Linked DNA regions of Homo sapiens: region 2 is linked to region 1. Evidence: fine-mapped expression QTL. A gene starts in region 1. The other region holds a variant in brackets. All regions are shown on one strand. Distances are from middle to middle.

Region 1 (14,317 bases):
GGGCGGGCCTCCCTCAGCCCTGGTCCAGGCCCCATCGCTACCTTAGATGATTGGATGCCACCAATCAGCATTATCGAAGGAAGGATGTGTTATTAGCTCCCACAACAGTATGCCTTTTCCATTTGATTTCTGTGAAATCAACCGCCCCTACCTCAAGGGAGGGCACATATAACCCTTTTTTTTTTTTTTTTTAAGACAGAAGTCTCACTCTGTCACCCAGGCTTGAGTGCAGTGGCATGATCTCGTCTCACTGCCACCCAGGTTCAAGCGATTCTCCAGCCTCAGCCTCCTGAGTAGCTGAAATTACAGGCACCTGCCACCGCGCCCAGCTAATTTTTGTATTTGTAGTAGAGACGGGGTTTCACCATATTGGTCAGGCTGGTCTTGAACTCCTGACCTCATGATCCCCCCGCCTTGGCGTCCCAAAGTGTTGGGATTACAGGTGTGAGCCACTGCGCCCGGCCAATTTAACCCATTTTTTCAAGACAAAGTTTCTTCAGGGACTTCCCTGCCCTCAGCTTGAAACAATAATAAAAGCATATCTGCATATACCAATTAAGGAAGCTGCCCGTGATACGTTAAAAATAGTAGTCATTGTTCTAAGCACTTAACTTGTATTATTTCATTTGCTATCGATTATCTCTTAAATGAAAAAGTATGGCTGGGCAGCACTTTGGGAGGCTGAGGCAGGCAGATGGCTTGAGCCCAGGAGTTCAAGACCAGCCTGGGCAACGTGGTGAAACCTCATCTCTACCAAAAAAAAAAAAAAAAATTTAGCCAGGCATGGTGGTGCATGCCTGTAGTCCCAGCTACTCAGGAGGCTGAGGTGGGAGGATCACTTGAGCCCAGGAGGTGGAGGCTGCAATGAGCTGAGGTTGCACCATTGCACTCCAGCATGGGTGACAGAGCCAGACCCTGTCTCCAATAAAAATAAAAAAGAAAAAGTACAATTTGCAGAATAGTATGTAGACTATCTGCAGATATAGAAAATAGAAGAATATCCCAAATTTAGTAGTGGCCCCCACTGGGGAACATGATAGAGACACACTGGGGAAAGGGCACATCCTTCTTTCACTTAACCTATTACCTTTGAAATGTATACAGCAAATATGTAGAACTTTATATTCATAAAGCTTTTTAAAATAGGCTGGGCATGGTGGCTCACACCTGTAATCCCAGCACTTTGGGAGGCCAAGGTAGGTGAATCACTTGAGGTCAGGAGTCCGAGACCAGCCTGGCCAACATGGCAAAACCCTGTCTCTACTAAAAATAAAAAAATTAGCTGGGTGTGGTGGCGCACACCTGTAATCCCAGCTACTTGGGAGATTGAGGCACGAGAATCACTTGAACCTGGGAGGGAGAGGTTGCAGTGAGCCAAGACTGCGCCACTGCACTCCAACCTGGGCAGCGGAGCAAGACTCTCTCAAAAAACAAAATGAAACCCTTTAAAATAGAAGTTGTCAGCCGGGCGTGGTGGTTTACGCCTGTAATCCCAGCACTTTGAGAGGCCGAGGCAAGGAGATCACTTGAGGTCAGGAGTTTGAGACCAGCCTGGTCAACATGGTGAAACCCCATCTCTACTAAAAATACAAAATTAGCCGAGCATGGTGGCACACGCCTGTAATCCCAGCTACTTGGGAGGCAGAGGCAGGAGAATAGCTTGAACCTGGGAGGCGGAGGTTGCAGTGAGCCAAGATCATGCCATTGCACTCCAGCCTGGGCAACAAGAGCAAAGCTCTGTCTCAAAAAAATAGATAAAAATAAATAGAAGCTGCCACTTACTGTGTTCCTAACTGCCTAACCCTGGCAGATGCTGGGAGCGTAGAGTAAAGGCGCCGTGGTTCAGGGAGAGAGGGGGCTGGTTCTCACCTCTGGTGGCAGCTCAGGAAAGATATTTGATGAAATCAAGATCTGTCTACCGAACACTGATAAAGGCTCTATTAGAATTTACTGGACTTCCCCAGAGTGCCACAGGGAGGCTGCTGCATGAAGAGGCAAAAATGTTAAACGAGGATGCAGCACGGAGTGTTCAAGGGACACAGACCTGAGGCAAAAGACAAAGCTGGAGACGGGCATTTTGCAAATTTGAAGCCAACTGGCTCACAAAATGAAAGAGGCTGTTAATACCAAGTGTGAAGGTGGGATGGCATCACCAGAGCTGGCCAAGTTCAGAGAAGCTGGAAATCTCAATTTGGATGTGACGTTATTAAATGATGACAACACACGTACACTACATGGGCCAACCATGGGCGAAATTCAGACTTTGGGTCTCTGGGTTACAGGTAAGGTCGTGACAGGCTTTGATGACTGGGGGTGCTGCAGAAATTCTGAAGTAGGTGACAACAGGTAGCTCCTCCCCACAGAATTAAAGCAATAATAACTCATATCTACCCCATGATACAGATTTCAAAGTACTTAATGTCATCACAGTGCTAAGGCCTAGGAATCCCCTTCTGGAGACAAAGAAACAGATTCAGAGAGCTGTAGAAGTTGGGCTGAGTCACATAGCAGTTGAGTATGGAACTGATTTTATCTGATTTTTTTTTTTTTTGAGACAGAGTTTTGCTCTTGTTGCCCAGGTTGGAGTGCAGTGGCGCAATCTCGGCTCACTGCAACCTCTGCTTCCGGGTTCAAGCAATTCTCCTGTCTCAGCCTTCCGAGTTGCTGGGATTATAGGCGCCCGCCACCACGACCGGCTAATTTTTTGGATTTTTAGTACAGACAGGGCTTCTCTATGTTGGCCAGGCTGATCTCGAACTCCTGACCTCAGATGATCCACCCGCCTTGGCCTCCCAAAGTGCTGGGATTACAGGCATGAGCCACCGCGCCCGGCCTTTTTTTTTTTGAGGTGGAGTTTCACTTTTGTTGCCCAGGCTGGAGTGCAATGACGCGATCTCAGCTCACCGCTACCTCTACCTCATGAGTTCAAGCAATTCTCCTGCCTCAGCCTCCCGAGTACCTGGGATTACAGGCATGTGCCACCACACCCGGCTAATTTTGTATTTTTAGTAGAGATGGGGTTGCTCCATGTTGGTCAGGCTGGTCTCGAACTCCTGACCTCAGGTGATCCGCCCGCATAGGTCTCCTGAAGTGCTGGGATTACAGGCCTGAGCCACCACGCCCGGCTGATTTTATCTGATTCTAAAGTCCTGGGAGTCCCCTGACCTGATGATGATGATGAAAATGAACATTTACTATGTGTCAGATATTTTTCTAAGATTAAAGCTCTTGCTCTGAGGTTCAGAATTCAGGGGATCCATAAACTTGGATGGGAAAAAATTATATTTTTATTTTTGCTAAACTCTAACCAAAATTTATGATTTCCTTCTATATGGATTGAAGCAGTAGCAGTATCTTTGGCTTAGTCACCAATAGAAATCACATATTTTCATATCAAATTGTAGTTATTGCAAGTATCTCAAAATATTTATGCTCAAGTGATTTCAAAATCACAGTGGTTGTTAAACCACCACTAAATTGTTCGTGAGCAACTTCTGTTTCAGATGCTCCTGTGATGTAGCCGCCATTAATTGGTTACCTCCAGGCTTAGCAGTGGTTCAGTGACCAAAGGGCGAATCTGCCTGTTCTGAGTAGGGCTTCTCCACTCTTCTGCATTCCCTGTCTTTTTTTTTTTTTTTTTGAGACGAAGTCTTGCTCTGTCGCCCAGGCTAGAGTGCAGTGGCGCGAACTCGGCTCACTGCAAGCTCTGCCTCCTGGGTTCACGCCATTCTCCTGCCTCAGCCTCCTGAGTAGCTGGGACTACAGGCGCCCGCCACCATGCCTGGCTAATTTTTTGTATTTTTAGTAGAGACGGGGTTTCACCATGTTAGCCAGGATGGTCTCGATCTCCTGACCTCATAATCCGCCCGTCTCGATTATAGGCGTGAGCCACCATGCCCGGCCCAGCATTCCCTGTTTTTAGTTGTTTGCTGATCAATATGTAAGAGGAGGGGCGTCAAAGACCACCCCACAGTTTAATGTCCTTATTCAAGCTGGTCGACAACACACTGAGGTCATTAAAAAAGAAAAATTTAACTTTCGGCCAGTCTTATTAATGTTAGTAAACACATAATATAAATTTCTGGTTTTATTTTTTTGAGATGGGCTCCTGCTATGTTGCCCAGGGTGGCTTTGACTCCTGGGCTTGAGTGATACTCCCCCGCTCAACCTCTCAACCTCTCGAGTAGCTGGGACTACAGTCGTGTGCCAGCACTCCCCAGCTCCAAATTTTTTTTTTGTTTTTTGTGGGTTTTTTTTTTGAGACGGAGTCTTGCTTTGTTGCCAGGCTGGAGTGCAGAGGCGTGATCTCAGCTCACTGCAACCTCCGCCTCCCAGGTTCAAGCGATTCTCCTGCCTCAGCCTCCTGAGTAGCTGTGACTACAGGCGTGCACCACCACACCCAGCTAATTTTTGTATTTTTAGTAGAGACGGGGTTTCACCATGTTGGGCAGGCTGGTTTCCATCTCTTAACCTCATGATCCACCCGCCTTGGCCTTCCAAAGTGCTGGAATTACAGGCGTGAACCACCATGCCCGGCCAAATTTGTTTTTAAATATAGTTTTGATAATTGTTCTCATTGTAATCCTAAGCATTTTGTTTTGTGCATTTATTTATTTATTTATAATACAGAGTTTTGCTCTGTTGCCCAGGCTGGAGTGCAGTGGCACGATCTTGGCTCACTGGAACCTCCCCCTCCTGGGTTCAAGGGATTCTCCTGCCTCAGCCTCCTGAGTAGCTGGGATTACAAGCACCCACTACGCCCAGCTAATTTTTTGTATTTTTAGTAGAGATGGTGTTTCACCATATTGGCCAGGCTGGTCTTGAACTCCTGATCTCAAGTGATCCGCCCACCTCGGCCTCCCAAAGTGCTGGGATTACAGGCGTGAGCCACCGCGCCCGGCCTGTTTTATGCCTTTATAAGCAGCTATTCTGAGAAAGCATTCACAGGCCTCACCAGATGCCAGAGTCCATACTGCAAAATCCAAGGGAGGCTAAACACCCCAGTTCTAAATGTTTTCAAGCCATTCAGATACTGTGCACAGCTGCCCTTTGAAGTACGGTCTATTATATCTCTTTTACAGACCCAGAAACTGAGGCGCAGAAGTTAGGGTCAGCCCCAGGTCACACAGCTAACAAGAGCTGGCCTAGGCACCCAGGGACCTGGCCCCCTAGCCTCTGTGCTTTGCTACTGATTTCAGCGCTCCTCTTGTGGCTTTTTCTTGAGGAGCCCAAGGGTCAGGGTCCCACCCCGCGATATGAGGCCAGTGGCACTGCCCCCTAGCAGGCGCGAGATGCCAGAGCCCTAGGATGTCTGAAGGGCCGGGCAGGAGGCGGACGGGCGTGGGCCAATGGCTGTCGCAGTGCCTCATCTTGCCGTCTGTGTGAGCCCAGGTATGCAGTAGGCTCCGCCCAGGACCCAGCCCGGCCCCTCCTTAGGCCTGGGCTCTGGGAGCGGAAATTCCGGCGACAGCAGGGCAAAACAGGAGCTGATTCGAGCTGGCAGAGCTGGGCCATGGAACCGGTAGAGACCTGGACCCCCGGAAAGGTGGCAACTTGGCTGAGAGGTGGGTGGGGCTGGGGTAGAGTTGGGCTTGAAGGGGACTAGGTGTGGTGTCCCACCGGGAAGCGGGAGGAGAGGAAAAGGAAAAAAAATCTGCGGACTGGGTGCGCTGGTTCACACCTGTAATCCCAGCACTTTGGGAAGCCAAGGTGGGTGGGTCACCTGAGGTCGGGAGTTCAAGACCAGCATGGTGAAACCCCGTCTCTACTAAAAATACAAAAATTATCTGGGGGTGGTGGCAGGTGCCTGTAATCCCAGCTACTTGGGAGGCTGAGGCAGGAGAATCGCTTGAACCCAGGAGGCAGAGGTTACAGTGAGCCGAGATTGCACCGCTGCACTCCAGTCTGGACGACAGAGCGAGATTCAGCTCAAAAGAAAAAAAAAAATAATAAACTGCGGGCTCTATCAGTCGGTCAGTCAGTCAACAAATATTTACAGAGCACCTAACATGTTCCAGGAACCGTGCTGGGCAGAGAGACAGATGAGATGACCCTGGGGGGCCCAAGGACCCAGAAGGGGGCCCCTCATCATGGCAGTAGCCCAAGAGGCCTCTAGGGTGATAATGGGGAGGCGGTGTCATGAAAACAGGAGGGAGGCCTGACAGGCCCACACCCACTGTATCTCCTTCATCTTCCCTGGCCCCAGGGCCAGTGGGCTGTTGTTAAATCCGTTTCTTAGAGTCAGAAACTGACACACAGAGCCAGGAAATGATTTGCTCAGTCTCTGGTGTCATTTTCCCCGCTCCACACCCTGAGCTCCTAGTGACAGAAGCAGAAGCCCTAGGCCAGACTGAAGAGGTTGACACAGCCCCACCCTGGGGCTCCTATCCAAGGGGCAAGGTGCTGTCCAGGCTCAGCGAGCCCACACAGATGGGAAGCAACACACCCCACAGGCAGACTCAGAGAAGGAAGGGCCTCCTGACACACAGTGCGACCAGGAGCAGGCAGTCAGGACACCCCTCCCAGAGTGGGGAGCTGGAGCGCACTAGAGACAGGCTCAGGAGGACCAGCCCGGGTAAGGGCAGGAATTCAGGGCTGGGTTCAGACTCCCAGGCTGGATTCCAGGCCCACCCCCACCGCTTGCCAGCTCTGTGACCATAGGTCTTAGTTTTTCTGTCCATCAAATGGGAAAGGCAACTCTGACCTTATGAAGTCGACAAAGTGAGACAATCATGACATAGTTCATTTGTAGCTCAATGCCTGGGTCTATTGGGAGGGCACCAGCCCAATACAGTCACCGTGCAGGAAGGAGGTGGCTCAGGGGCCCATAGCCAGGGAGTGATAGGTTCATGAACTCCCAGTCCAGTGCTCTCAATGTGACACAGGGAACACACACACACACCTCCCCCAGTGAAGGAGCCTGGCTTAGAAGGGGAAGAATTCCTTCGAAGAGTGAGCAAGCTACTTAACCTCTGTGTCAGTTTTCCCATCTGTAAGCAGGATAATGATAGTCTTTACCTCCTAGAAATGCAGTGAGAATCAAATGTGTTAATATGTGTAAAGCTCTTATAGATTTGCATAGCACATAGTAAGCCCTCAATAGACACTTTTCTTATTTTTCAGTGCCTACCTTGTCCAGGCACAGGCCGGGGGTTAGAGACAAATGGTTATCTAAGGCCTGATCTTTGAAGAGCCTGTGATAAAATGGGAAAGACCGATGGTCAAGTGCAGGGGTTTGTGGAGGCTCAGGGGCAGTGGGAACAAGAGGAGAGCCCTCCATCCCACTCAGCCTGGGAAGTTATGGAAGGCTTCCTGGAGGAAGTTAGATGAAAAAGGAAGTGAAGGAGATAGAAGAGCAACGCCAGCAGGAGGAATAGCACTTGCAAGGACGCTGAGGTAAAAGGGTGTTCCAGGAGCTGCAAGGAATTAGCTCTGTGCATCTGAAATGTTGAGTTTAGGGGGCTCTTCAGGATATGATGCTGGAAAGGGAGGTAGTAGCCTAATCATACAGGGCCTGTAGGTCATGGTAAAGTCTGGCAATAATAATATGATGGCTATTATTGGCTGTCTCCCACGAACCAGACAGTGGCCAAGGCCTTGACATATGTTGTGTCATTCAATACACACATGATTAGAAGGTAGGTACTTTTATTATTCTCACATTACAGGTGAGAAAACTGGGCACAGAGCAGTGCTATTACTTGCTCAAGTGTTCACAGTGTCTCAGTGACTCCATAGCCTCTTGTTCTTATCCCCTGTATCATTAGTTCTCAAACTTAAGGGAGCATCACAGTCACCTGCATTAAAATACAAACTGCTGGCTGGGCGTCGTGGCTCACACCTGTAATTCTAGCACTTTCAGAGACTGAGGCAGTCAAATTGCTTGAGCCCAGGAGTTCGAGACTAGCCTGGGCAACATGGTGAAATCCCACCTCTGCAAAAAATACAAAAATTAGCTGGGTGTGGTGGTGTGTGCCTGTAGTCCCAGCTACTTGGGAGGCTGAGGTGGGAGGATGGATTGAGCCTAGGAGGTCAAGGCTGCAGTGAGCCGTGACTGTGTCTCAAGCCCCTGTCTCAAAAAGAAAAAACAAAACAAAAACAAAAAAAAGACTGCTGGGCCCCAACCTCAGAGTTTCTGATTCAGCAGGTGTGGGGTGAGGCCTGATAATTTGCATTTCTAACAAGTTCTCCGGTGAGTCTGCTGCTGCTGGTCTGGGGGCCACTTTTAAGAACCCATGTCCTATACTTTCCTGCTTCTCAACTCAGTGGCCTCATCTGTGAAATGGGCAGAACAGCCTGGGTGTCAGAGTTGTCATTAGGGTTAGACTAGAGGGAAAAGAGCTTTGCAGGCATGAAGAACCATCCCAAAAGGTCCTGACACCTCTGCTTCCCCGAGCTGAGCCTTACTCTCCCTCCAGGTCTTGACGACTCCCTGCAGGACTATCCCTTTGAGGACTGGCAGCTGCCTGGCAAGAACCTGCTCCAGCTCTGCCCCCAAAGCCTCGAGGCTCTGGCTGTGCGGTCTCTGGGACACCAGGAGCTCATCCTGGGCGGGGTGGAACAGCTCCAGGCCCTGGTGAGTGAATGCTGGTCACACTGGCTGCAGCTTCCACCAACCTGGGGGGTGTGATGGGGGGCTGGCTGCTGCCAGGGAGGTGACTTGCCCTCTTTCTGGCACAGAGCTCCAGGCTACAGACAGAGAACCTGCAAAGCCTGACAGAGGGACTTCTGGGGGCAACCCATGACTTCCAGAGCATAGTCCAAGGCTGCCTGGGGGACTGTGCCAAGACCCCTATTGATGTCCTCTGTGCAGCTGTGGAGCTGTTGCATGAAGCTGACGCCCTCCTCTTCTGGCTCAGCAGGTACCCGGGTTGGGGTGACGAGTGAGGGACTATTGTCATCCTTGGCCTCCTTCAGGGCGTGGGAGAGAAAAACAGATCTTGGCTCTTGTTCAGATATGGTGAGCCAGGCGTGGTGGCTTAGGTCTGTAATCCCAGCACTTTGGGAGGCCGAAGCGGGCAGATCACTTGAGGTCAGGAGTTGGAGACCAGCCTGGCCAACATGGTGAAACCCCATCTTTACCAAAAATATACAAAATTAGCCAGGTGTGGTGGTGCGCACCTGTAATCCCAGCTACTGGGGAGGCTGAGGCAGGAGAATCACTCAAACCTGGGAGGTGGAAGTTCCAGTGAGCCGAGATCATGCCACTGTACTCCAGCCTGGGCGACAGAGTGAGACTCCCTCTCAAAAAAAAAAAAAAAAAAAAAAAAGATATGGTGGAGCAGGGCAGAGGGATTAATCCACCTGTGCAGGGGCACTGGGATGCCAGAGTTCCCACCCCACCCTCCAGCTTGTAATAATCGATCTCATCAACAACCACTGAATGGAGAGCCTCCCCAACCCTGTGCACTGGCTGCTGCTTGTCCTACAGACCCCACCTCAAATGTCATCTCGGGGAAGCCTTCCCTGTTGTACACTCTCCAAGCTATACTATTAATAAATAATAAATAATAACTTATTATAAACTCATTATCCAATGTTTCATGATACTCATTACAGCCAAAGTTAAATTGATATTGATGTATGATGTCTTTACTGTCTGTTTCCCCAGTGCCTAGAACAGGGCTTGGCATGTGGTAGGCACATGACAAATAAGTCCTGTGCTAATCTCTTTAGATGTCTCAATCATCTCCTTTACTCTAAACCAAAACCCATCAGAGCAGGTATTATCCCCAAGTCTCTGAGGTGAGTAATTGGTGAGTAATTGGCTCTGAGTGGTTAAGCATAGTCCCTTAACCACTGTGCTATTCTTCCCCTGCCAGGTACCTCTTCTCCCACTTAAATGATTTCTCAGCATGCCAGGAGATCCGAGACTTGTTGGAGGAGCTGAGCCAGGTCTTGCATGAGGTAGGAGAACCAAGGGCCAGGCTTGGCCCATGCCCTAGAGACCAAGCTGGGCTAGAGCTTTTTATAACCTGTGAATCAGCCCAGGATCGAGTATGAGGATTGAGACGGGCGAGAAAGGAGGAGAGGAGGCCCTGCCACTGGGTATGGGACAATGGGGCCTGGGGTCCCCTAGCTGGCAGGGGAATTTTGACACTCAGGACAGGGAAGGAGGGGAGGGCACGTGTGGTGACTTCTGGGGGCCTGGTATCAGGGAAACGAGCCCTCTGGTTAAAACGCTGAGGCCCTGTGGTTCTGGGCAGGGGGCCAGTGTAGGGAAGGCAGGGAGGGACTGTACGGAATCCCACCCTGCCCCCAGGAGAAGGCAGTCCCCTTATGGCCCTTGCTCAGGGGAGGCCCCTGCTCTCTCATTCTACTTCCAGGATGGTCCAGCGGCTGAGAAGGAGGGCACAGTCCTGAGGATCGTGAGTCTGTGGGGTGGGAAGAGAGTGGGGGTAGGGGCGATCGGGCTCAGGCTACATAGCCCGCTCCCCTCCCCCAGTGCAGCCACGTGGCTGGGATCTGCCACAACATCCTGGTCTGCTGCCCCAAGGAGCTGCTGGAACAGAAGGCCGTGCTCGAGCAGGTGCAGCTGGACAGTCCATTGGTGAGCCCTGCCCTCCCACCTCTCACTTCTGACCCCTTGGCAGCCTTGTCTGGGCCCTGAAATAGGGTCCAGGATCCCACAGAACCCTGTGCTGCCATGGCTGGAAAGCCTTTTTTGTACAGATGCTAAAATGGAGGCCCAGAGGATTGGCCAGGGTCTCCCGTTGCTCTGCACCTCCCCAGTCCTGAGGGGCCACGCGGGTGTGGCCTCAGGTAGTGTGTTCCAGCCTTGGGATGGAGACGGGGCAGGGGCTTGGGGGCAGTTAGGAGAAAGGGAGAGGATGTGACCTTTCTTGGTTTAATCTTTGACCAGTGGGGAAGACCAGAGCCCTATCCCTGCCCTGTCCCTGCTTGTCCCTTTAGGAATGTTGCTGAGAAGCTGGTACCTCAGAAATCAGGGTCTCCAGCTTCCCTCTGGCTCTTAGCAGAGGAGAAGGCAGAGGCCCACAGGAGTAGCAAGTCCAAAGTCATACAGCAAGTCTGGGCAGGACCAGCTTGGGGTCAGCTCTTGCCACAGTTCCACCCACCATAGAGTCCTGGTGTCTGGCGGGGGTCCTGCCTATTGGCCCTGTTGCCCCCCAGCCCCCGGTGACTATAGCCTCTGCCTCTGCAGGGCCTAGAAATTCACACCACCAGCAATTGCCAGCACTTTGTGTCCCAAGTGGACACCCAGGTGAGAGCCCCACACCCTTCTCAGCCGCCCATCCCCGAGGCCTCTCACCTGCAAGCCAGGCCAACCTCAGGCCCCATTCCCCACGTCAGGTTCCCACTGACTCCCGACTGCAGATCCAGCCTGGAGACGAGGTTGTCCAGATCAACGAGCAGGTGGTGGTGCGTGAGGAGAGGGACATGGTAGGAGGTGAAGGGGTCACCGAGTGGAACCCAAGTCTGGTGGGTGGGGAGGCAACCAAGGGTTCTGACCAGGGTTGTGGGAGCTGCCTTCCAGGAGATGAGCCAGCTAAGTCTGGTGAGAGCATCCTCTGCAGAGCCCAGGTGATGGGGCCCATGGAAGCCCCCAGGAGGCTGCATGAGTGGGAGGCAGAAGTGGGAGGCTGAGAGAGAGCTCCCAGCACGAGGGTGAGAGTTGGTGGTTGCTTTAGAGCCTCCTGCCCAGGTTGATACCAGCCAGTGTTTCTGTCCCCCAGGTGGGATGGCCCCGTAAGAACATGGTGAGGGAACTGCTGCGGGAGCCAGCCGGACTCAGCTTAGTGCTGAAGAAGATCCCGATACCGGAGACCCCCCCACAGGTACCTTCCCCTGCCGCCCCCCGACCTGCCTTCAGACCCCCCCCTCCACAGGTACCTGCCCCCACCACCCCCACACCTGCCTTCAGACCCCCCCCAACAGGCACCTTCCCCTGCTGCGCCCCCCTAGCTCCCTTCAGACCCCCCCACAGGTACCTGCTCCTGCTGCTCCCCTACCCCTGTTGCCCCCCAACCTGCTTTCAGACCCCTGTCTCCATTGCTTTGTTCCTGGTTGTTCCCCAGACGCCCCCTCAGGTCCTGGACTCCCCGCACCAGAGGAGCCCATCACTGTCTCTGGCCCCACTGTCTCCCAGGTAACAGGCTCTGTCCAGGTGTGTCTTGGTGGGGAGACCGTGGGCTCATCTCATCCCCCTTGCCCTCCCCAGGGCCCCATCTGAAGACGTCTTTGCCTTTGACCTGTCTTCAAACCCCAGTCCCGGACCCAGCCCTGCCTGGACAGGTAGTCTCAAAGCTCCATGGATGCCCCGGACACGGCATCTGGGCACCCAGTTCTGACCCCAAGCCTGGGACTGGGCTCATAGACTTTCCCTCTCTCTCCTCCCTCCCTGACAGACTCTGCCTCCCTTGGCCCTGAGCCCCTGCCCATCCCCCCGGAACCCCCAGCCATACTCCCAGCAGGGGTAGCAGGGACTCCAGGGCTCCCTGAATCCCCTGACAAGGTAAGCTCAGGGGCTTAGCAAGGGGGTGGGTGGGTCTGGACCTAGATCCTTCTCTCACCCTTCTGCTGTCCTTTCAGAGTCCTGTTGGTCGGAAGAAATCAAAAGGTATGAGGTGCGCTGGACTAGGTGGGGGTTCCCCTGTTTGAGGAGCTGTTAAAAATCTTTACATGCTGGGCAAGACCACCCCCATCCTTCCCACACAGCCTCTCCTGGAAACAGCTCTGTTTCTAGGGTCAGACAGAGCTGTGCTCCCAGTCTGGGCCTCTCACCAGACTAGAGGCTAACCTGTTTGCTGTGACTGAGCAAACAGGTTAGCCTCTAGTCTTCAGTTTGCTCATCTCTAAAATAAGAAGGGTCATCCCACCTCAGAGATGACACATGTAGCATTCTGAGCAGAGTGTGGGTTCAGAGATCTCACTTGGGGATGCTTGTGGAAGGCAGGGAGTAGGTTTAGCGGGGGCACCTTGCCAGCCCCTCACTGCCCAGCTTGTGCTGTGCTGCTACAGGCCTGGCGACCCGGCTGAGCCGCCGGCGGGTGTCATGCCGTGAGCTGGGCCGGCCGGACTGTGACGGCTGGCTCCTGTTGCGAAAGGCACCGGGCGGCTTCATGGGCCCGCGCTGGCGCCGCCGCTGGTTTGTGCTCAAGGGACACACGCTCTACTGGTACCGCCAGCCCCAGGTAAGACCCCATACACAAAAACAGGTAGGCAAGTGAGTCACTTCCAGGCCTCGATTCTCATCTCTATTCTATCATCCACTCTTATTCCTGGTCCAAGGCTTTGATGTCCCCATCTGTAAAATGGGGACTTTATTCAGAGAGAAATGAGTTAATATATGTATAAAAGCAGTTTGGAAAAGGTATCATAGGAGGTATAGAGAAAAATCTTTTTTTTTTTTTTTTTGGAGACAAAGTCTCACTCTGTTGCCCAGGCCGGAGTGCAGTGGCATCATCTCGGCTCACTGCAAGCTCTACCTTCCGGGTTCACGCCATTCTCCTGCCTCAGCCTCCCGAGCAGCTGGAACTACAGGCGCCCGCCACAACGCCCAGCATATTTTTTGTGTTTTTAGTAGAGACAGGGTTTCACCGTGTTAGCCAGGATGGTCTCGATCTCCTGACCTCGTGATCCACCTGCCTCGGCCTCCCAAAGTGCTGGGATTACAGGCGTGAGCCACCACACCCGGCCCTGAAAAATCTGGGCAACATAGCAAGATGGAGTCTTGCTATGTTGCCCAGCCTTGTCTCAAACTCCTGGGCTCAAGCGTTCTGCCTGCTTCAGCCCGCCAGAATGCTGGGATTATAGGCGTGAGCCACCACATCTGGCCGAAAAATCACGTCTATTCTGCCCACTTCTCCTTATCCTTCTGATATTCTGTCCATCCGAATGATGGGCCATTCATTTACTCATTTATTCATTCAGGATTCAGGTGCCTACTGTGAACCCAGCTCTAGGCTGGGCACTATGGACACAGAGAAGAATTGGATGATTTTTGCTTCTCCAGAACTTAGAGGCTAGTAGGGGAGAGGGATGAATACACACTCAAGGACAATGTAGGGACCGTGTGCTAAGATAAAGGGAAAGCCCAAGGGATATGTGGGAGCACAGCAGAGGTGTCCAGTCCATCCTGAGGAGTCCAGATGCCCCCTGACAATGCAATACCTGGCAGTTAGTTGCATGGGAAGGGGAAAGAAAACCAGGAAGAGAAAGCAGCATTCAGAAAGCTCAGGGGTGTGAAGCAGTTTGGTTTGTGTCTACTGAAGGAACAAATGCATGAGCAAGCTCTTCTTGTTTGGTTTTTTGGTTTTTGTTTTTGAGACAGAGTCTTGCTTTGTCACCCAGGCTGGAG
Region 2 (15,135 bases), 26 kb after region 1:
ACTCCCCAGGACGGCTGGAACATCCTCAACTTCATTATCGTCTTTATCTTGCTCTTGCGGTTCTTCATTAATGAAATCAATATTCCCTCCATCAACTACACTCTCAGGTGAGCGGGGAGCTCTGGAGAAATGAGGGGGACCTATCTGGAACCCAGGAATGAGATGGGGGGATAACGACCAGCTGGAGATCAGCTTTGCCTCTCTGGGCAGCTGGTGGGGGTAATGAGGAGGGAAGGGGCTGGGAAGGGCCTAGGGGCACCCCTGACAGGCTCTGCCACAGGGCGCTTCGTCTGGTGCATGTGTGCATGGCGGTGGAGCCCCTCGCCCGGATCATCCGCGTCATCCTGCAGTCGGTGCCTGACATGGCCAATATCATGGTCCTCATCCTCTTCTTCATGCTGGTCAGTGCCTGCCCCCGCCCCCAGCTGTTTCCCTTCCCTGAACAGGGCCCTTGGGTCATTGCAAATAGAGGGGTGTCTGGAAAAGCAGAGAGGCCTGTGGGCCTGAATCCCTGTGATTTCCTCAGCAGCGTTCATTTACATGACATTTGTGTGTCCTATTTCCAGGCCCTTTGGTGAAGTCGGGGTGGGGCTCTTTTCTCTCTGACAGGTTTTTTCCGTGTTTGGAGTAACACTCTTTGGTGCATTCGTGCCCAAGCATTTCCAGAACATACAGGTTGCGCTGTACACCCTCTTCATCTGCATCACCCAGGACGGCTGGGTGGACATCTACAGTGACTTCCAGTGAGTGCCAGTGGGACTTCCAGCCTCATCCCACCTATGGGGCAGGGTAGCCGGTGGAGCTCCAGGCTGAGAGTGGGAGCTCCAGGGATTGGGATGAGGATGGCCCAGTAGAAGTGGGGGTTCCCAGGTCTTTAAACAGAGGAAAAGGAAATACCTGGACTTGTGATACCTGAAGCCTTGTCACCCTTGAATCTCCATATATTCAGAGTCCCATTCCCACCCTGTAATGGGGACCTCTCCCATCATGCTAACCAGCTGGGTAGTTGGCCTTGGATAAGGCAGCAGGTCTGCAGTTATGCCTCAGGTTACAGAGCAACCTCCCAGCCCACCTTGGAGCCCACCAAACTGCCTGAACTCCTGGGAACTTCAGGTCTCATTTCATTCATTCTTAAACCCACTGCCCACATTCATTTTTGTGTTCTGTTCTTTACCTCTTTTCTATTAAGTCTAAGCCCTATTTCTTTCCAGTTTATTCCAGAAAGTGGGACCCCTTAACTGATTTCTTTTTATCTTCTACATGTGAGTATAGAAGCCCAGTAGATAAAGGGCTTCTACAGTCATTCTCCATTATGGCATAGGTAGTGGATAAAAATCAGGCTGGCCGGGGCCGGGCGCGGTGGCTCACGCCTGTAATCCCAGCACCTTGGGAGGCCGAGGTGGGCAGCTCACGAGGTCAGATCAAGGCTATCCTGGCTAACACAGTGAAACCCCATCTCTACTAAAAATACAAAAACAAAGCCCAGTGCAGTGGCTCACACCTGTAATCCCAGCACTTTGGGAGGCTGAGGCAGGTGGATCACAAGGTCAGGAGTTCAAGACCAGCCTGGCCAAAAAGGTGAAACCCCGTCTCTACTAAATATACAAAAATTAGCCGGACGGTGGGGCGCCTGTAATCCCAGCTACTCAGGAGGCTAAGGCAGGAGAATCGCTTGAACCTGGGAGGCGGAGGTTGCGGTGAACCCATATCACGCCACTGCACTCCAGCTTAGGTGACAGAGTGAGACTCTGTCTCAAAAAAAAAAAAAAAAAATTAGCCAGGCGTGGTGGCAAGCACCTGTAGTCTCAGCTACTTGGGAGGCTGAGGCGGGAGAACGACATGAACCCAGGAGGTGGAGCTTGCAGTGAGCCGAGATCACGCCACTTCACTCCAGTCTGGGCAACACAGCGAGACTCCATCTCAAAAAAAAAAAAAGGAGTGTAGCTAATAGATTAAACTTAATAGTGTTGATGTGCACGTCCCCACCTTGCAGGGTTGGTTAGAGAATCAGCTCACTGTCTGGCAGCACAGTAGGTGCTTAGTAGAGAGCAGCTATTGAGACAGGAGTAGGGAATGGGATCTGCACAACAGCAGTGACACAGGCAGAAGTTCTAGTAGGCCTTGGGATGATTTTCCCATTTCAATGACAAGGAAACTCAGGCTTGAAGGGCCAGGGAAATGATGGGGCCCCTGCCTGCCATCTGCAGGACAGAGAAGAGGGAATATGCAATGGAGATTGGGGGTGCCATCTACTTTACCATCTTCATCACCATCGGTGCCTTCATTGGCATCAACCTGTTCGTCATCGTGGTGACCACCAACCTGGAGCAAATGATGAAGGCAGGAGAGCAGGGACAACAGCAACGAATAACCTTTAGTGAGGTGCGTGGGATGGGGAGGGCAGAAGGGAGGAAAAGGAGTGTGTATGAGAGCGGACTTGAACATATGTGCATGTATGTGTGTGCTTGCATAATCAAGGGCCTGGAGAAAGCCAAGTTGGAGGCCTGGAGGCAGCAGCCCCCCATCTTGAGTGCCCACCCACCAACTGGGGCTTCTGAGGGGTGTGGATTTTCTAGATGTTAGATTTCTATGGCAACTCAAAACTGAGCAGCTGGGTGACCTTGGGGCATTTACCCACTCTAAGCCTCAATTTTTTTCTTTTGTAAAATGGGAATAATAATAGTACTTAACTCATAGGGTTATTTTATGAGGGTTAATGGGTAAATGAACAGTGCTTGGCGCATAGTAAGCACTCAATAAATGTTAGCTACGGTATTATTCATTCAGGGCAGTACTTCCATAAGGTTGGGGAAAGGGGTGGAGTACTTCTAAAAGAGTGGAGTGCTGGAGGCCTGGGCTTGAGGGTAGGCAGGGCTTTATAAATTTGCTGGGTAGGGTTTATCAGGGTTGAAATCTGGGGCAGGGCTAAATTTTGAAATGGGGTGAGAATTTTTAAAGAGGTGGGGGGAGGTCATGTGCATTTAAAGTTGGGTTCCCCCAGCAAGGCAGTGAGGCTAAGATTGGTGAGAGCTGAAATGAGGGCCTTAGAACCCTGGGGTCCTAAGAGACTCATCCTGAAGCCAAGCAGGAAAAGGGTGCCGGGGGCGTGCCTGCCTGAGCTGTCCCGACCCCTCTCTATCCCCCGCTTCCCAGACAGGCGCAGAGGAAGAGGAGGAGAATGACCAGCTGCCACTGGTGCATTGTGTGGTCGCCCGCTCGGAGAAATCTGGTCTCCTCCAGGAACCCCTTGCGGGAGGCCCCCTGTCGAACCTCTCAGAAAACACGTGTGACAACTTTTGCTTGGTGCTTGAGGCAATACAGGAGAACCTGAGGCAGTACAAGGAGATCCGAGATGAACTCAACATGTAGGGGAGGGTACTGGGGCTGCCCCCAAGTCATGTGAGTCAAGGCTGGGCGGAGCGTCAGAGTCTTCTGGCCTCACGCCCTCACCATTTATAAGGCAGAGCCTGGGCCCCACAGAGGTCCCCCACCCTATTGGTGGAGGAACTGGAATCCAGACTCCAGGTTCCTTCCATCTCACACAAGGGCACAGCTCGGCCTGGGTCTCTGTCAGGGCTGCGTGGGAGAGCGAAGCGGGGGTGACGCCAGGGAAGAGGTGGGAGGGCTGCTTCCCTCCCCTGAGGCCTTCTGAAAGGCACTCACTGCTCCACCCCCAGGATTGTGGAGGAGGTGCGCGCAATCCGCTTCAACCAGGAGCAGGAGTCAGAGGTGTTGAACAGGCGCTCGTCGACGAGCGGGTCGTTGGAGACTACGTCATCCAAGGACATCCGCCAGATGTCTCAACAGCAAGACTTGCTCAGTGCGCTCGTTAGCATGGAAAAGGTGTGCCTTCCTTCTCCTACCCAATGGGTACTCGCCCTGACACTCTGCTCAGCCCAGCCCAGCCGGGCCTCTGGACCATTTGTCAAAGTTTCTGTCTATTCCAAGATCTGGTCCCCCTCACCACCACCACCCCTCCTTTTTTTTCTTTTTTCTTTTTCTTTCTTTCTTTC[CTT/C]TTTTTTTTTTTTTTTGAGACGGAGTCTTACTCCATCGCCCAGGCTGGAGTGCAGTGGCGCGATCTCGGCTCGCTGCCACCTCTGCGGCCTGGGTTCAAGCGATTCTCCTGCTTCAGCCTCCCAAGTAGCTGGGATTACAGGTGCTTGTCACTGCACCTGGCTAATTTTTGTAGTTTTAGTAGAGATGGGGGTTTCACCATCTTGGCCAGGCTGGTCTTGAACTCCTGACCTCGTGATCCACCCTCCTTGGCCTCCCAAAGTGCTGGGATTACAGGCGTGAGCCACTGCACCTGGCTGTCTGCCTCTTAAACTTCCATCTGCCTCAGCTGTCACTGCCTATCTGGTTAGGTTCTGCACTTTCCTTCTCGGAAAGGCTCCACCCTTCCTGCCAGTTTCATCTCTAGTGCCTTCAAACCTACCCTTTCTTAGTGTGTGTGGCATGAGCCAGCTCAGTGCCTGCCTAGTGGCAGACACTTAGGCTGTAAGTATAGTGTGGGCACAGGACCCAGGATCCTATCTAAGGTGCACAAAACCAGCTGTCTCCTGAACTCCTGGAGAGAAAAAGGCACACACCCACGTTACTTAGTTTCTTTTTCTGCCCCTCCACACCATCAGCCTGGGATATACCCTGGGCTCCCAAACTCAGAGGGGGTACTAGGTAGGCTCAAGTTAGACCTATGAAGCACTTCTCTGGGAGGCCTGGCTGGGGAAGCTGGTGAGACTGGAGGAGGTGAGTAACGGAGGCTGCCATATCGGGGGGAGTGGGGGATTAACAAGAAGACCTCTTGGTTTGCAGGTTCATGACTCTAGCTCACAAATACTCCTTAAAAAACACAAGAGCAGCCACTGAGAGGCCAGGATGGGAGCCAAGGGGCCTGCACACACACACCCAGCCGCTGCGTCTTCCTGTGTCCTTAGTGTGGCTTGGCAGAGCCTGGCCAGAGCCCATCCTCTCCCTTATACCTGGGCAGAGGCCAGGGGCTGTGAAGGTGGCAGCACCTGCAGGTCTGGTGCCTGTGAGCCCCAGGTCCGGTGGAGCAAGGAGAGAGGAGGATGCTGGATGATGAGAGTGGGAACCCTAGCAGCAAGGATGAGCACAGAAGGGGGTGCTGGCCAACGCAGCCAGGATTTGACCTAAGGATGGGGATCCCTGGCCCCCTGCTCTTGCCCAGAGCTGGTGGGGGGCCTCAGTGGGCCCCAGAACCAAGAAGAGAAAGGCAAGGCCAGTGGGGCCAGACATCTGTGTGTTGACAATAAAGTTTTGTGTTGGAATCAATGTCTCTGACTGGTGGATCTCCAACTCCTTGGGGCACTTGCCTGGGTCTAATAGGAAAGACAGATCTTGCCCCTCAAAATCCCGTTTGTCTGGTGGGAGAGTCACAGGCTGCCCTGAAGAGCATCCAGTCTAATGGGAGGGAGAATTGCACCCCTAAAAATTTCTGACTTAATGGTAGAGATATAACCCTTGCCCTCAGGGTCCTAAGCTTTGTGGAGGAAAGTCTGGTCCTCATGGGAGGGAGCCCCTGTCTGATGAAGGAGATGGCCCTACCTGCTCTCTCCCTGTCTGAAGATGGAGACTGGTCCTCACTCTGGGGAGCCCTTGTCTGATGGGATCACCAATGACCAAGTCACACAAGTACAGGCACCTCCATCCTAGGGCAATGGAGACTGACTACTTAAAATGTGGGTCCTGGCAGCTTCCTAGAGGAGAGGAAGATTTTGCGGGTCAGATGAATGAAGTCTGGTGGGGAACTTAGGACCTGTGAAGCCTATTTGGGATCTTCATACTCAAGGCCACTGAGAGCCTCAGCAGGTTCCTGAGCTATGCAATCTGGGGAGAGTCAGAAAATTGTGGCAGTTATGGGCAATAGAAAGAGCTGCCTTGGAGGACAGGAAACCTCGGTTCTGGTCCTTCAGTGAGTCACTTGGCCTTGTTTTCCCCATCTGTGCGATGGAGAGAGGGTGAGATTGATCTCCATCTCTAAAATCAAATAATCCCCTCTTATCCCAGGAAGTGGAAGACCCATGGGATCAGCTATGTCCCTGGGATGCAGGTGTCAGGGGATAGCCTGGAAGGCCTGGACATCTGCCCTGTTGTTCAGCGAAGCCTGACACTTAGGGGCCGTGGCGATATTCACCAGTTGGAATGGGAGTCCCCAGAGGTCCACTGATTGCAGCTGATGGGAAACCCCACCCCCCATCGTCCTCCCATCAGCATTGGTTCCAACTCTGAAAAGCCCCCTGGGGTCTGTTGGGAAGGAGTCTGGCCCCTGGGGATGGATGGTGCACTCAGTAGGCAGATGAGAGGCAGCAACAGAGCCAGCAGTGCCTTACTGTCTCGGAGCCGTTAATCTATTCCCCTGTTTGAGCCAGGACTTCTTCCCAGCACCCTCCAGGACCATCAGCAGCACAGAGAAGGGCACCCAGCGGATTTTGCTGCTGCTGTTGCTACTTACTGGAGATGGCGCCCTCAACCTGCCTGGTGAGTATCTACATACTCTTTCCACCCATCTTTCTCTGGGGGCCCTCTCAGCCCCTCTTCTTGTTGGCCAGAGAGGGAAGAAGGTGGCAGATCAGATGGTGTCTTCAGGAGGAGCTAACAGTTTGAGTATGGCTATCCTTCACCCCTAACTGTCTGAAAGGCTTGGAGCATCAGTGAGCTTACAGTCAGGAGCACAGCAGGGTGACCTCCATGGAGCTCCTGGCCTTGACCATCTATCTCCTCCAGGATGCTATTTTGTCTATCTACTCCCTTCATCTTGTTTGTCATCTCATCTGTCTCTGCCTTTGTCTTTCCCATCCGGGCCAACCTAACAGCCTGGAGTTTCAGCAGGCTAGTTCCTTCCCAAACTGGCCTGGAACTGAGGGCCCAGGAAGTCATACTCTCCCCTTCCCCTTCCCCTTCCCTACTCCAGCAAAGAGCAACTACCACTCCCCATGCCTTACTGAGCCTGAGTTAGGAGTGGGGCCCCGGATTCTGAGCTCCTAGGACAGTGCGGGGGAAGATATTGGGAGGTGGCTGGAAATTGTGTGTCTCATCACCCCTATGGTCTCACCTGATGGGTTTCCCATCAGCTACAATCAGTGGACCTCTGGGGACTCCCTATGAGTCCATAACTTTTACCAGGGACAGGAGCATCCTTGGCAAACTGTCCAGGAAGCAGACACCAATTCTGATGACAGGAGCAGCAGGGGATAATCATTCCCAATAGCAGTTCTACTCATTGAGTACCTACTAGGTGCTAAGCATGGTGCTGAGTGCTTCACACGCAGTATTTCATCCTCATGACCATCAGTGAAGTGGGTATGAAGAGGATATGTCCCCACGGGGGACTTATCCTCCATCACAGAACTGAGATCCTAACCCAGGTCTGACTTCAGAGCCCAGGTCACACTTCTCAAGGGAGCTTCTGTGGGCAGGAAACCTCAATATCATAAAGATGTCAATCCTCACTGAACCTATAATTGCAGGGCACCTCCAATCACAATTCCAACAGGTTGCTTGTAGAAATTGTTAAGCTGATCCTAACATATGTAAGGAAGAACAAAAGGCCAAGAATAGTCAAGATAATTTTTTTTTTTTTTTGAGACGGAGTTTTGCTCTTGTTGCCCAGGCTGGAGTGCAATGGCACGATCTTGGCTCACTGCAACCTCCACCTCCCAGATTCAAGCAATTCTTCTGCCTCAGCCTTCCGAGTAGGTGGGAGTACAGGCATGCGCCACCAAGCCCAGCTAATTTTTTGTATTTAGTAGAGATGGGGTTTCACCATGTTGGTCAGGCTGGTCTCGAACTCCTGACCTCAAGTGATCTGCCCACCTCGGCTTCCCAAAGTGCTGGGATTACAGGTGAGAGCCACTGCGCCCGGCCTGTCAAGATAATTTTGAAGCACAAGATGGGTGACTCACCCGACCAAATATTGAGGCTTACTATAAAGTAACAGTAAGATAATGTGGTGTTGGTTGGGGGAAAGATGGACTTTTCCATAAGGGGGCAGGGATAACTGATTAACTATATGGAAAAAACATAAAGTCAGATTCAGTGGAAACATCCCTCCCTGCAAATAAAAACTTGAGACCCCTATAGCAAGACATATAGGTTCAGTGCAAACTAGATCTTTGTTGCAAATGGACCCCACAGATGACTAGAGTTTACAATGCTCCTCCACACTGAGCCAAGTCCCTCACTAGGCTAAGAGGAACATGGAGGCCCAGAGAGAGGTGAGACCTTCCCCAGCGTCACCCAGCAAGCCAGTAATAGAGCCAGGTGTAGAGCGTAGGTCCCCCTACCCTTTCCAAGCATCCTTGCCAATTCCCCTGGCCTGTTGCAATCCCTTAGCTCTGCACAGGGCCAGAAGAAAGTGGGTGTGGGACTGGGCAAGGTGGCTCATGCCTACAATCCCAGCACTTTTAGAGGCCAAGGCAGGAGGATTGCTTGAGGCCAAGAGTTTGAGACCATCCTGGGTAATATAGTGAGACCTCATCTCTACAAAAAATAAAAAGAAGGCTGGGTGCAGTGGTTCACGCCTGTAATCCCAGCACTTTGGGAGGCTGAGGGGGGCAGGTCATGAGGTCAAGAGATCAAGACCATCCTGGCCAACATGGAGAAACCCTGTCTCTACTAAAAAAATAAAAAATAAATTAGCTGGGCGTGGTGGCACGCGCCTGTAGTCCCAGCTACTCAGGAGGCTGAGGCAAGAGAATCACTTGAACCCGGGAGGTGGAGGTTTTAGTGAACTGAGATTGTGCCACTTTACTCCAGCCTGGCAACAGAGTGAGAATCTGTCTTTAAAAAGAAAGAAAGAAAGAAAGAAAGAAAGAAAAGAAAAAAATCAGCTGGGCGTGGTGGCATGCGCCTATAGTCCCAGCTACTCGGGAGGCTAAGGCAGGAGAATCACTTGAACCCAGGAGGTGGAGGTTGCAGTGAGCTGAGATTGTGCCACTGCACTCCAGCCTGGTGACAGAGTGAGGAAAAAAAAAATCAACTGGGTGTGGTGCAATGTGTGTGCAATGTGGTGCGCCTGTAGTCCCAGCTACTCGGGAGGCTGAGGCAGGAGAATTGTTTGAACCCAGAAGGCAGAGGTTGCAGTGAGCTGAGATCACGCCACTGCACTCCAGCCTGGTGACAGAGTGAGACTCCATCTCAAATAAATAAATAAATAATAAAAAGAAAAATGTTAGTCGAGTGTGGTGGTGCGCACTTGTAGTCCCAGCTACTCAGGAGGCTGAGGCAAGAGGATCACTTGAGCCCAGGAGTTTGAGGCTGCAGTGAGCCATGATTGCACCACGGCACTACAGCCTGGGCAACTGAGACTCTGTCTCTAAAAAAAAAGTGAGGGTGTGGATGGTGCCAGAAAAGAAGGGTTGGTGCATCTTCAGAATTAGGCGATGGGAAGGACAAAGAATGAGCCTGCCACCTGGGCTGGGTCACTTCCAGTTTTTTTTCTTTTCTTTTCTTTTCCTTTTTTTTTTTTTTTTTGAGTTTTGCTCTTGTTGCCCAGGCTGGAGTGCAATGGCATGATCTTGGCTCATTGCAACCTGTGCCTCCCGGGTTCAAGCGATTCTCCTATCTCAGCCTTCCAAGTAGCTGGGATTACAGGTGTGTGCCACCACGCCTGGCTAATTTTGTGTGTTTTGTAAAGACGAGGTTTCACCATGTTGGTCAGGCTGGTCTCGAACTCCTGACCTCAGGTGATCCTCCCATCTCAGCCTCCCAAAATCCTGGGATTACAGGCGTGAGCCACCATGCCTGGCCAGCCTCCAATTTTCTGAGTTAGCCTTTTGAAAACTGCCAAGAGGCTGGACACGGTGGCTCACGGCTATAATCCAAGCACTTCGAGAGGCTGAGGCGGGTGGATCATTTGAGGCCAGGAGTTCGAGACCAGCCTGGCCAACATGGCAAAAACCCATCTCTACTAAAAACACAAAAATTAGCAGGGCACGGTGGCATGCGCCTGTTGTCCCAGCTACTTGGGAGGCCGAGGCAGGAGAATCACTTGAACCCAGGATGCAGAGGTTGCAGTGAGCCAACATGACGCCACTGCACTCCAGCCTCGGTGACAGAGTGAGGCTGTCTCAAAAAAAAAAAAAAGAAAGAAAGAAAGAAAGAAAGAAAGAAAACTGCCAAGAATGCAAAAACAGCACATCAGGTGATGGGCCTATTTCTGCCCATTACCCAGGGGAAAGAAGAAGGTTTCCAAGGAATCCAGCCCAACATAATTGATTTGGGCCTTTCTAGAGAGAGCAGCTGGCTCAACCATGAGAATAAAGCTGTGTTTTTGTAAGGCAGTGCAGTGTGGTAGGGAAGGCATTGGGTTCTGGTGTCTGATGGACTTTGTTTCAAATGCAGTGGCACCACTTCCTGGCTGTGTGACCTTGGACAGATGTCTTCACCTGTCTGATCCTCAGTTTCTTCATTTGATAAATGGAAATAATAGTCCTTTTCTACAGGTTGGTTGTAAGGATTTAATGTGCCTGTGCATTGGAGCAGCACCTTACCTGGGCAGGGTGACACTTGAACAATATCAAAATGATCCTTGACTGCTATGACACTCAATGAAACACTCGGCTTGCAGTTAGGGGTCATATTGTTCAAAAAATTCATATCTTTAGGCCGGGCACAGTGGCTCATCCCTGTAATCCCAGCACTTTGGGAGGCTGAGACAAGCAGATCACTTGAGGTCAGGAGTTTGAGACCAGCCTGGGCAACATGGTAAAACCCTGTCTCTACTAAAAATACAAAAATTAGCCAGGCATGGTGGCTCATGTCTGTAGTCCCAGCTGCTCAGGAGTCTGAGGCAAGAAAATGGCTTGAACCCGGGAAGCTGAGGTTGCAGTGAGCTGAGATTACACCATTGCACTCCAGCCTGGGTGACAGAGCGAGATTCTGTCTCAAAAAAGAAAAAAATCGTATCTTTAAATACTAGAATCATATTCAATGCAGTAGGAAACTAATATCAAACAAGGCATCAAGAAATCAAACACCAATTGAGATAACAGATTTCTGTCTTTTACTGACTTGCACTGTCTAGAGTAGCCATTGAGTGGAATGAGACATAGTTACCTGCACAAGTAAAATTCTCTCTCCCTGGTATACATCTGTTGAAATCTATTGGCACAGAGCTGGCACATAAATGTGAGCTGGTAAGATTTACATATGTATGTAAATCAACACCCACTACATTATATATAATATATATTTATATATGTATATATAATATATATTTATATGTATATATAATATATATTTATATGTATATATATTTTATATATATAATTTTATTTTAGAGATAGGGTCTCACTTCGTCATCCAGGCTGGAGTGCAGTGGCACAATCAGAGCTTGCTATAACCTTAGATTCCCGGGCTTAATCAATCCTCCCGCCTCAGCCTCCCAAAGTGCTGAGATTATAGGCGTGAGCCACTGTGCACGACCTGATATTATTTTTAGGGAGTCTCCCAGTAAGAATATTTGACAAGTCATAACATCTGAAAATAACTCTGGTTTGGTGGAAGGAACAGGTAGATTGCTTTCTCTTTTATTATTTATTTATCTATTTATTTATTTTGAGATGGAGTTTCTCTCTGTCACCCAGGCTGGAGCACGGTGGCATGATCTCAGCTCACTGCAACCTCTGCCTCCCAGGTTCAAGTGATTCTCCTGACTTAGCCTCCCAAGTAGCTGGGACTACAGGCATGGGACACCACACCTGGCTAATTTTTTTTTTTTTCAGTAGATATGGGGTTTCACCATGTTGGCCCGGCTGATCTCGAACTCCTGACCTCATGATCTGCCCACCTCAGCCTCCCAAAGTGCTGGGATTACAGGCATGAGCTACCATGCCCGGCCTCTTTTTTTAATTTTTATTTTTCTCTACTTAGATGGGGTCTCGCTATGTTGAGCAGGCTGGTCTCAAACTCCTGCCCTCAAGTATTCCTCCCATCTCGGTCTCCCAAAGTGCTGGGATTATAGGCATGAGTCACAATACCCAGTCTAGATTACCTTCTGTTTATTTGTTTTTTCACAGGCAGTGTTACAATCTGGGGAGTTGTGTCAAAAACAATACACTCCACAGAAGACTCTGCACCTGAGGAAATTATATTGTGTTCATCTACAACTTCAACTCTGTTTAACAAAGGGAAAGACAATGTCTCTCCAGCTGTACTTAACAGTTCACCAACAACTGACAAGACATCAACATCTGAGTCCCAGAAGCATACAACACCAGCTGCTCCTCCAACCTCTCCACAAACAGCAGCTCTAATGGGTCCACTGAGCAGACAACTTCAATACAAAAAACTCAGGAAGAGAAATTAAACACAACTATCAGCACAACCTCCAAGGGTACACTGCTGCCAAATTCCATCATGACTTCTACATTGAAGGACCAGGGAGGGATATCAAGAACCACAGCTTTATCCAGCACGGCCTCTTCAGTTGAGACCCCAAAACAGAATCAGGAAACTCCAATTATAACTCCATCAGCATCAAACACCACAGTCAATGGGACACAATCATCAGTGTCCATTGGCTTTCAGGAATCAGACACAATCACATCCCCAACAGCACTGAACACACCAGGCAGTGATGTTCAATCATCTGGGTCCATGGCAACCACTGTCTCTGGGAAGTCAGCTATAACTACATCCCCAACAGCAAAGAGCACGCCAGGCCATCATGTTCAATCATCCGGGTCCATGGCAACCACTGTCTCTGGGAAGTCAGCTATAACTACATCCCCAACAGCACTGAACAAAACCACTGGCATAAAAGAATCTTCACCCATGACAGCCAGCGAAGTTATGCACACTACCTTGCTAAACACAACCACTCTCGGGACAACTCTTCTTGGAACAACTACATCTGAGACTCAGGAAGGAAAAACTACAGCTGCATCCTTATCCCCAACAACCACCTCCATGATAAGCAAGTTGTCTGGAACACATCATAACACAGTCTCACAGACACCTTCCCATCTGGCAGAATCAACCTCCAGTGTTGCCACTGCTATAATCCAGTCACATGAGATGACAGCTGCTCATTCCACAGGCCTTCTCCCCAGGTCCTCGGAAACAACAAAATCCTCTGCTGTAACTGGGGCCAGTCAAACCTCCCCTAAACACACCCAGAGTAGTGGTCCCAGAGTTGGAGCCTGTGCTTTGGATGAGTATGCAGGTAGCAGGGGAGTTTGTATGTGCAATGACAGCTACTACTTCCACGCGGGTAAGTCTGAGGAACTCATGTGAGTAAAACAAAGAAGAGGTGGGGGCCAGAGTGGACACCATAATTCTGTGAAGTCTCAAAGGGTCCAAAGGGTATGAGAGGGCCAGTGAAGTTTGGTAAGACGTTGGCATCTTCTGAGTCCACCTGGGTAGAGGTGATTTCTGGTGGGAAGACAGGCAGCTGGGCATATGGGATAGAGTGCACAATTTTTCAGCTCCAGCCCCCAGGACTCTAGCTACTGTCCAGAGATGAAACTTTCCTGGGGGAAGGAGCTGCACCAAAGACAAGAACTGTAGTTCCAGCGGAGGCCTGGAAGGCCAGGTGGAAAAACTAAGGCAAAAGTCTGACTGTTGGGGCAAGTCAGTGTGGCAGATATTACAGAAAGGCTGAGTTCACAGGGCCTCCGACAGGCAGTGCCACAAACTCCCAGATCCATCCTCTGCAGGCCTGAAGCTGGGTCTAAGACAGCAAAAAGATAATAATATCCCCCAAACATATGTTCTTCACGGTTGAAATAATTCTAACCTCTCCTCCCCCAAGCATTTAAATTTAACAAGTCTGGGCGCAGTGACTCATGCCCGTAATCCCAGCACTTTGGGAGGCTGAGATGGGAGGATCACTTGAGGGTGGGAGCTCAAGATCAGCCTGGGCAACCTAGTGGGATCCCATCTCTACCTTTTTTTTTTTTTTTTTTTTTGAGACGGAGTGTCATTCTGTCGCCAGGCTGGAGTGCAGTGGTGCAATCTTGGCTCACTGCAACCTCCGACTCCCTGGTTCAAGCGATTCTCCTGCCTCAGCCTCCCAAGTAGCTGGGATTACAGGCACGTGCCACCATGCCTAGATAATTTTTGTATTTTTAGTAGAGAGGGGGTTTCACCATATTGGCCAGGATGGTCTCAATCTCTTGACCTTGTGATCCATCCGCCTCAGCCTCCCAAAGTGCTGGCATTACAGGCGTGAGCCACTGCGCCAGACCCCTGTCTCTATTTTCAATAAAATATAATAAAATATACTTAACAAAATTCTGCTTTTCCTAAAATGACTATTGTGTCTTTTTTTAAAAAAATCTAATTCCTTTAAAAAATATTTCTTTGGCATTCCTGCCTTGGTCTATTGGGTAGTCCTGCCTTGGGATGAAGCTTTTGTTACATGCAAAACCGGCAGTGCTTAACTTATGGGTCACTGTTTTCCAAAATGTATTTCCTGGGACACCAGTGCTATGTGATTGCAATAGACATTTCACTTAAAAAAAAAAGTTCTATTGTCATATACATTTGGGAAATGCTGGATTCAACAAAATTGTGTCTCGACTGAAGAACTTTTCAGAGCCTTTAATATTCCACTGTTTCCTGTGACTTCCTAGCAGCAGATTATAGCATATATTTCCTAAGATTATTTGTTCCTAGAATCCTCATTCTAAGGAATGTTCATGCAGCACCTTGGGATATCTATTGCAGAGCAGGGGAGCTAAGCAGGGCTGTGCAAGGTAGAAGTCCAATCCAGGTGGTTTTTAGTCAAGCCTTGAGGCAGATGCTGGCCCATTAGAGGGTTGTCACTACCTCAGCAGACTCTCAGTAAAACCAGGGTTATGTGCCAACTTGTACATGCTGCATGTGCCCCTCCACAGAAAATATGACGTACATCATCGAGTTTTTACACATTGAGAATGAGACAGCTTTTCCTTTTGTGTTATTTCTTTCCCCCTGTGGGTAAGAAGAACATGGGCTCTGCCAGATAAACTGGGTTTGAACTGTGTCTCATTTTCTTTCGCTAGGTATACGACTGCATTTACCTACCAGCTATTATTAATATGATTTGGCACTTTGTATCACAATATACGATTGACTGCAATTGACTGCAACAACAGAATGTTACGTGACTGACAAACTCCCCCTCCTCTC

Alleles and levels. Positions count from the first base shown, and alleles are read on the strand shown. Sizes are in standard deviations (SD) of each study's normalised expression.
For the expression in naive CD4 T cells of the gene that starts at base 5,456 in region 1, CTT is the high allele of the variant in region 2 and C is the other (large effect, 1.2 SD a copy in Schmiedel 2018).

The links. PIP is the estimated chance that this variant, and not a neighbour inherited with it, causes the effect.
Region 2: its variant is fine-mapped to the expression of CNKSR1 in naive CD4 T cells (Schmiedel 2018, PIP 0.95).

The regions. Positions count from the first base shown.
Region 1 is chr1:26,172,036-26,186,352 of GRCh38, forward strand. CNKSR1 (connector enhancer of kinase suppressor of Ras 1) reads left to right here and starts at 5,456. Exons shown (of 21, transcript NM_006314.3): 1 at 5,456-5,564; 2 at 8,418-8,575; 3 at 8,680-8,861; 4 at 9,822-9,906; 5 at 10,326-10,367; 6 at 10,445-10,549; 7 at 11,162-11,221; 8 at 11,311-11,379; 9 at 11,694-11,795; 10 at 12,036-12,106; 11 at 12,179-12,252; 12 at 12,366-12,472; 13 at 12,550-12,577; 14 at 12,979-13,151. The coding sequence starts at 5,513. RefSeq lists an enhancer at 10,035-10,536.
Region 2 is chr1:26,197,677-26,212,811 of GRCh38, forward strand. It overlaps CATSPER4 (cation channel sperm associated 4), which reads left to right. Exons shown (of 10, transcript NM_198137.2): 4 at 10-107; 5 at 281-401; 6 at 610-743; 7 at 2,208-2,382; 8 at 3,154-3,365; 9 at 3,678-3,843; 10 at 4,813-5,288. The coding sequence ends at 4,866. Among named protein-coding and RNA genes, the nearest start is that of CATSPER4, 15 kb to the left of the region's middle. RefSeq lists enhancers at 296-795, 3,779-4,751. The variant CTT/C (reference allele first, on the strand shown) is at 4,014.